2 linked regions of the Homo sapiens genome follow. The protein of the gene in region 1 purifies or fractionates together with the protein of each later gene. This does not show direct contact. Each region holds a gene or a part of one and is shown on either strand. Other genes may lie near its edges. The genes, in order: BRSK2 and CRAMP1.

Region 1 (3,805 bases):
GTTGGGTCTGTGCGTCCTGCAGGGCCAGTGTGGCTGTAGGGTCGTCCTTCTGCATGGGGCGTCCTCTGCACAGCTCCCCTCGGTGGCTGTGGGGGTTGCCTTCAGTGGTCTCACTGCCGGTGCCAGGCACCAGGTGAAGCCGTCAGAGCACTGAGCATCTGTGGAAGCCTCCTCGCCGGCTGCTTGGTGGTTTCTGGCCAAGACTTAGGGGGATGTAGGCTGGGGTTGGGGTGGGAACCCACCTGCAAAGGTGCTGCCTTAGCTTTTCTTGGGGCTGAGAAAGGCTTGTGTAGCCTCATCTGAGCTTGACCCCTGCAGAGATGCCGAGACACAGTCCCTGCCAGCAAGGGCAACCATGGAGGTTGGAGGGCGCAGACACTCCGAGTTGGAGCATGCAGGTCCAGGAGGGTGTGTGGCACGGGCTGGGTGGCTTTTGTCCCTGCGCGCCTTTGTCCCTGTGCCCCATCAGTACGTGGAGCAGGGCACCTTCTTGCCCAAACCTCGGCTTAGCTCCTGAAATCTGGGAGGCCTGGGAGGGCCCTGTGGGAGGAGCTGGAGAACCTCGGGCCCTTGGAGCTGTTCTTGGGGGCAGGCGGGTGGGCTGCATGGGACGATGAGGGGCCTGCCTTCGGGAATCCTCTGTCTGGGGGGCGGGAGAAAGGAATAATGGCCGCGATAGGGCTCCCTGCGAGGGAACGAAGGAGCTAGGATGAGGGGCTGCCCTGCAGCTCACCTGGCAGTGTTCACCTGCTGTGGCGTGGGGGAGGGACCTAGGCTGCCAGGGACCTGGGGCCGCCCCTCCATGTTCTCAATGGCCTTTAGGAAGGTTGAGCCCTGGTGGCTGCCAGGGTGGAGAGGGGTCCTGGGATGGGAGGAGTCATTGAAGATGGAACAGGTGAGGGGAGGGAGAGCCTGTGCCTGGGAGACCCTGGGGGTGACCCCAGGCCCAGAAGCTGGAGGCAGATGTGGAGGGGAAGGAAGCTGGTCTGAGATGGGGTCTGTTTAGAAAGTTGAGCAGGACGGGCAGCGATGGGCTGTGGTGTGCAGGTCCCTGGAGATGGGCCATGGAGATGGGTCCTGGAGATGGGTCCTGGAGATGGGCCCCTGGAGATGGGCCATGGAGATGGGTCCTGGAGATGGGTCCTGGAGATGGGTCCTGGAGATGGGTCCTGGAGATGGGCCATGGAGATGGGTCCCTGGAGATGGGCCCCTGGAGATGGGCCATGGAGATGGGTCCTGGAGATGGGTCCTGGAGATGGGTCCTGGAGATGGGCCATGGAGATGGGTCCCTGGAGATGGGCCATGGAGATGGGTCCTGGAGATGGGTCCTGGAGATGGGCCATGGAGATGGGCCATGGAGATGGGTCCTGGAGATGGGCCCCTGGAGATGGGCCATGGAGATGGGTCCTGGAGATGGGCCCCTGGAGATGGGCCATGGAGATGGGTCCTGGAGATGGGTCCTGGAGATGGGTCCTGGAGATGGGCCATGGAGATGGGCCCCTGGAGATGGGCCCCTGGAGATGGGCCATGGAGATGGGTCCTGGAGATGGGTCCTGGAGATGGGCCATGGAGATGGGCCATGGAGATGGGTCCTGGAGATGGGCCCCTGGAGATGGGCCATGGAGATGGGTCCTGGAGATGGGTCCTGGAGATGGGCCATGGAGATGGGTCCTGGAGATGGGCCATGGAGATGGGTCCTGGAGATGGGTCCTGGAGATGGGCCCCTGGAGATGGGCCATGGAGATGGGTCCTGGAGATGGGTCCTGGAGATGGGCCATGGAGATGGGTCCTGGAGATGGGCCATGGAGATGGGTCCTGGAGATGGGTCCTGGAGATGGGCCATGGAGATGGGTCCTGGAGATGGGCCCCTGGAGATGGGTCCTGGAGATGGGTCCTGGAGATGGGTCCCTGGAGATGGGCCATGGAGATGGGTCCTGGAGATGGGTCCTGGAGATGGGCCCCTGGAGATGGGCCATGGAGATGGGTCCTGGAGATGGGTCCTGGAGATGGGCCATGGAGATGGGTCCTGGAGATGGGTCCTGGAGATGGGCCCCTGGAGATGGGCCATGGAGATGGGTCCTGGAGATGGGTCCTGGAGATGGGCCATGGAGATGGGTCCTGGAGATGGGTCCTGGAGATGGGTCCTGGAGATGGGCCCCTGGAGATGGGCCATGGAGATGGGTCCTGGAGATGGGCCCCTGGAGATGGGCTGTGCAGGGCTGAGCCCGGAGAGCGCATGGGTAGACAGGACCCGGCAGCCTCCCCAGCCATGAAGGTGAAGGTGGACTCAGCGTGGGGTGTCTGCTGCGAGACCCCAGGAATTCTGTGGCCTTCCCCACATCAGGCCCTGGCCATCTGACCCCAGCTGTTTTGTCAGGGCAGCAGCAGCCTGGGGCTGGACTGAACCCCTCATCTGCCCTGCACGGGGTTTCTACAAGCTGAGGTCTCAGGACGCTGTTCTCAGGGGCGCCGTGCACAGAGCCCGGGGAGCCAGCATGGTGGGTAGCCCTCCCATCTGAAGTCTCCCTGGCCCCCTGAAGTCCCTGGAAAGGCCCATTTGGTGTCGCTGGGCGCCATGTCAGTGACTGCGCCAGGGTGGAGGCCTCAAGATGCTGCCCCTGGCGTCTTCCTGCCCTGCATGCCCTCCACAGGGAGCCCCCTTTCCAGCTGAGAGCTGGCCTTGAGTGTCCCTGTCAGGGCCCTTGGCACAGAGGTTCCGGGTGGTGAGGACGGCAGTTCCCCTAGGCGGGGGCGGGAGGGTCGTTGGAGGCGGGAGCCCTAGGCCCTTGTCCTGTCCCCACCCACTGTGGCCCTGGGCACCTCAGGTGTGTGTGTCCCTGTTGACGTGGGTCTCCCTGCCTTGTCACTGGCAATGGCTGGAAAAGACACGCTGGGCAGAGGGCACCGCCCGGCCCTGATCGTGCTGGCCGTGCTGGCCCTGCTCTGCTGAGGTGCGTGCACGCCGTGGATTTCCTGGATGTGGAAGCCTCAAGGCCAGGCTGTGCCCCCTCCCCCAGCTGTGCCAGGGAGGGCTTTCCAGAGTCACCGTGGCTGGCTGCTGCCCCGCCTGCTCCACCATCTGCCCGAGCAGGGAGTTGTGTCCAGAACCACTGGGGAATGCAGGGCCTGGGCTGTGATGTGAGGTTGGCCTCTAGGCTTCAAGGGGATCTGTTTCTGGCAAATCTCACGCAGGCCCAGCTGGAGCTACTATCAAGGGCCGTGGCTCCTGCCCACGACCCAAGCTCCAGGGCCTCTGGGTCCCCACCATCGTTGGCTGCCGAGGTGGCCAGGTCCCTTCCTTGCTCTGAGGGTGGCTGGGAGTGTCTTAAGGTTGTCGCTGTGCCAGGTGTGTGTGGACCCCTGCGTCCCCCGCTCCTCGTCTCTCTTCCCTTCCACCCACGTCCCCCACTCCTGGTCCCTCTTCCCTTCCACCCACGTCCCCCACTCCTGGTCCCTCTTCCCTTCCACCCACGTCCCCCACTCCTGGTCCCTCTTCCCTTACAGCCGCCTCGAGGACTGCATGGGGCCAGCAAGGCCTGTACCCCAGGACACCAGAGTTGCTCGGACCGGCTCCCGGACCTGGGCCTAAGCGAGCTCTCCTGGTTCTCACTCCCGAGTCTGCGGAGTGACCCCGGGCCCTCTCATCATGGCCTCACCCTGCTCCGGCGCTCTGGGTGCTTTGAAGCAGACAGGAGACCCCCTCCAGGCTGGCCCGAGGGCAGGTCAGACCCCAGTCCCTGGGAACAGCCTGAGTGGGCTGTGCCTCCCCGTCGGCCACTGGCGCTCAGGAGGAGCCGTCGGGAAG
Region 2 (3,805 bases), on another chromosome or scaffold:
CTTTGGTGCCTGTGTGTTACAAGCAGTGACTTTATTTTACTCACCCCATGTGTGAGGAAGCCCAGAATGGGAGGTGTCACTCCTAAAAGTCCATGTCCAGTGGTTATAAACAGGTTTGTATAACTAGTTGCATTCCAGTCAAATCCAGAAGAAAGTTCTGGATTAAAAGTGGATCAGGCCAGGCACGGTGGCTCGCACCTGTAATCCCAGCACTTTGGGAGGCCGAGGCAGGTGGATCACCTGAGGTCAGGAGTTCAAGACCAGCCTGGCCAACGTGGAGAAACCCCGTCTCTACTAAAAATACAAAAACTAGCTGGGCGTGATGGCGAGTGCCTATAATCCCAGCTACTCGGGAGGCTGAGGCAGGAGAATCACTTGAACCCAGGAGGCAGAGGTTTCAGTGAGCCGAAATTGCACCACTGCACTCTAGCCTGGCTGACAGAGCAAGACACCGTCTCAAAAAAAAAAAAAAAAAGTGGATGACTCTGACATTCCTCCAGTTTCCCTGGGGAGGGTTTGATTACCTGGGTTTGTTTGAGAGAGGACCTAACTGGAGCTTGGGGTACATGGGTCCTAACTGTCTGAGCAGTCCCAGGTACCCTGTGTCATCGGCTCTGGAAAAAGCCCCACCTGGCTATGCTGGGCACCCTCTTACTTGGGACATTCCTTTGTAACTGGGAGTGATTTTTTGGTATGGGAGTTTCATCACCTTGATTGTTGACCATTTTCCCCACAGAGAACACTGCTCCCTAGACCATCGGAAAACCAGTCCCACAACGTTTGTTCCTTCTCCATCCTGTCTAACTCTTCCGTAACTGGTAAGGACCCTGAGCTTTTCTGGGGTAGCTTGTCCCTCCTCCTCACAGGAGGGCCTTGGCTTTGGAGACAATGGGTGCTTATTTCCATGGCCTATCTTCAGGCATTCCTTTGTCCATTCTACCGACAAATACCTAATGTGCCCTATGTGCTGGGCTGCAGGCTGCGGTGGCGGGCGAGGCAGCTAGTCCAGCGAGGCAGCTAGTCCAAAGGGTGCCCTTCGTCTGTGGCCTCAGATGGCCCTGTGTGAGGCGCTTGGCTTGGTTAGAGTTGTGTCTCTTGTCTGCTCTCTCTGTGTAATGTCTTGTCAGCCGTTTTATGGGATGGATGTGTTCTTGGGGTGTATGGATTATGCTTCCATCAGTCTGTACATTTAGTGGGGGCCTTGGCTCCTTGCGGTAGATATTACACAGGGAGAAGCCTCTAGTGAAACACATACTCTGTGACTTCCCTTTTCTACCAGTGTTGACTTCCACGTCTCTCACTGACTTATTGCAAGACCCTTAACAGCTGTCAATTGCTTTTTCTCTTGCCTACTTGTCAATTTTCAACTGTGGGAAGCCTGGCAAGATAAAACCAAATTGCAGTGGCAGCATCTTAGTCCAGAATCTGATGCTCTGACTGCCCTGGGGCCTGTACCTCAGCTTGGGGGCTTGTCACCCTTCAAGAGCCATTTCCGCAGGATGACAGTGGTGACCGCAGCCTTCCAGTAGCTCCTGGGAGGCACAGTGGTGGGTGCCAGAGCTTGTGTCACGTTGGGGGCCTGTGTGACCTCTGACTCCTCATGTTAGCATTTGGAATGTTCAGTGGCTTCCAGCTTGGCTCGGCTCCCACACTCCCAACAGTGGCTGTAAAGGAAGCCCCCTGCGGCCACATCCTGCTGTGAGGGCATGGCGGGCGGGCTCGACATGTCTGCTTTTGCCCTCGCCCTCGCAGGGAGAGGTTCGTTCCGGCCCATCCAGTCTTCTCTGACCAAAGCAGCTCTGTCTCGGCCGATCGTGCCCAAGGTCCTTCCACCCCAGGCCACGAGTCACCTGGCCAGTAAGTCTGTACCTGCATGGCCACAGCCACTGAGTGAGCCTCTGAGGGATGTTTTTGTGACCAGGTTTTTTGAATGTTTTCTTCTCCAAATCATAATGTCTCATTACCCTTCACCAAGAACATCTAAGCCCTTGGCTCTTGCATTGACATGAGGTGCGAGGGAGAAGCTGTTCCCCGAGCCCTCTTGGGACATCTTATGGGTTGTCAGTAGAGCAGAGATGTGCAGCGTCCTTTTTGTTGCCAGGTGCTATCGACTTAGCAGCTACAAGTGCCGGCATCCTTTCCGGGAACCCCCTCCCTGCCTTGGACACCGAGGGCTTGTCTGGCATCTCTCCACTGTCTTCAGACGAGGTGACGGGTGCCATCTCGGGGCAGGACTCTACTGGAACTCACCAGGATGGAGACACCCTCCCCACCGTGGGGGTGAGTATGTTTAGAAGGGCTTTTCAGCATTACCACCAACTTCTGGTGTGGACGCCAAAGCCATGGGGCTGAGATCACGCTGGACTCCAGCTCTGCCTTTGGAGGAGAGTCTCTGGACCAGGGGTGCCATGGCATAAGCAAACTCTGTGTAGTACAGAGCAGGAGAGGCCTCCGGAGCCACTGACGAAAGGTGGGGACAGGCTTGCCATGTGGCACTGGAGAACTCAGAGCTAAGACGGTGTGGAAACATAGCTCCATCTGAGAGTGACCATAACCAAGGTGGCAGCCCACAGCGCTGTGCTCGGACACCACTGAGCATCTCTTTCATCTGGGAAGAGAGCAGCCTGTATGGCCTTGGCCATTGCTCCTTTCCAAGGCTCTGAGCACCTGGTTTCTCTGGCCTCCCACGGCCACTTCAGAGCTGCCCCAAGGAGGGTGGGGTGGGCTGATGCTGTTAAGACTCCAGGGAGCCCAGCCCTGCCTGCCACAAGGTTGACTTCCTGATAGGACTTTACTTCACTCTTGGAAGCAACAAAAAATTGGAAGTACACGGTCCACACCTGAAAGTAGCCTTTCAGTGTTCTCGACCTTAGACCCCTGTCCATTTACTGTCCCTCTGCTGTTAGGAGGCCAGGGGGATGGAACGCCTCTTTTTCTGGAACTCTGTCGCGGGTGAGGGTATGGGTGGCATCTGGTGCACCCTGCGGCTGCTCATGGGCGTGCTCTTCCTGCAGGGCTCCGACCCATTTGTCAGCATCCCTTCGAGGCCTGAGCAGGAGCCAGTGGCAGACAGTTTCCAGGTAGAGTGTGCTCTTGGGCTGCTGAGCAAAGCAGCTGCCCCAGGACTCCCTCCAGTGCCCTGAGCTGCCACCTGCAGTCTTGGAGTGGCCCGGCTTCTCTCCTAGACTGTGCAGTGGCTTTGCTGTTCTTCCACCTGCTGTGCCGACTGCCCAGGGTGGATAAATGAATATGGCTGTCCGCCACCTCAGACTTCCCTCCTCCCCTCTCCAAGGTGGGCTGTTTCAGACCCAGCTCTGGAAGAACTTAGCGCTCTGGAAGAACTCAGCTTTCTGGGAGGAGGAGGCTGTCAGCTAGTAACTCCCCCAGCCCCCACTCTCTTTCTGGCAGCAGTCAAAGCAGGTCCAGGCCACTGCAGCCTGACTTTCTGACTCTGCCATAGTGAGTGTTTTTGGGAGAAATAAATTCCCCGAGTGTGTTCCTGAGTTGGAAGGATGAGGTGACTGCAGCGCTCATCACCCTATTGATTTGCCTGCAAGCTAGGAGAGTAAGCTGGTGTTTCTTCCCTTGTCATGGGTTCTGATAGACCTGGTTGTGTCTGAAAAATACCTGTCTCCCAGCAGGGCTCATCTGTTCTCTCCTTATCTGAGCTGCCCAAGGCCCCTCTCCAGAATGGCCTCTCCATACCGCTGTCCTCGTCAGAGAGCTCCAGCACCCGGCTGTCTCCACCAGACGTCTCTGCTCTGCTCGACATCTCCCTGCCCGGCCCACCTGAGGATGCGCTGTC

The links.
Region 2: the proteins of BRSK2 (region 1) and CRAMP1 purify together in Homo sapiens (affinity purification with mass spectrometry; one large-scale study listed by BioGRID and IntAct). This does not show direct contact.

Annotation. Positions count from the first base shown.
Region 1 is NC_000011.10:1,392,804-1,396,608, forward strand, and holds part of BRSK2 (serine/threonine-protein kinase BRSK2), read left to right. Parts: intron 1-3,805. UniProt on the Homo sapiens protein: Serine/threonine-protein kinase that plays a key role in polarization of neurons and axonogenesis, cell cycle progress and insulin secretion. Phosphorylates CDK16, CDC25C, MAPT/TAU, PAK1 and WEE1.
Region 2 is NC_000016.10:1,664,321-1,668,125, forward strand, and holds part of CRAMP1 (protein cramped-like), read left to right. Parts: intron 1-736; coding exon 737-818; intron 819-1,752; coding exon 1,753-1,857; intron 1,858-2,101; coding exon 2,102-2,280; intron 2,281-3,014; coding exon 3,015-3,080; intron 3,081-3,641; coding exon 3,642-3,805.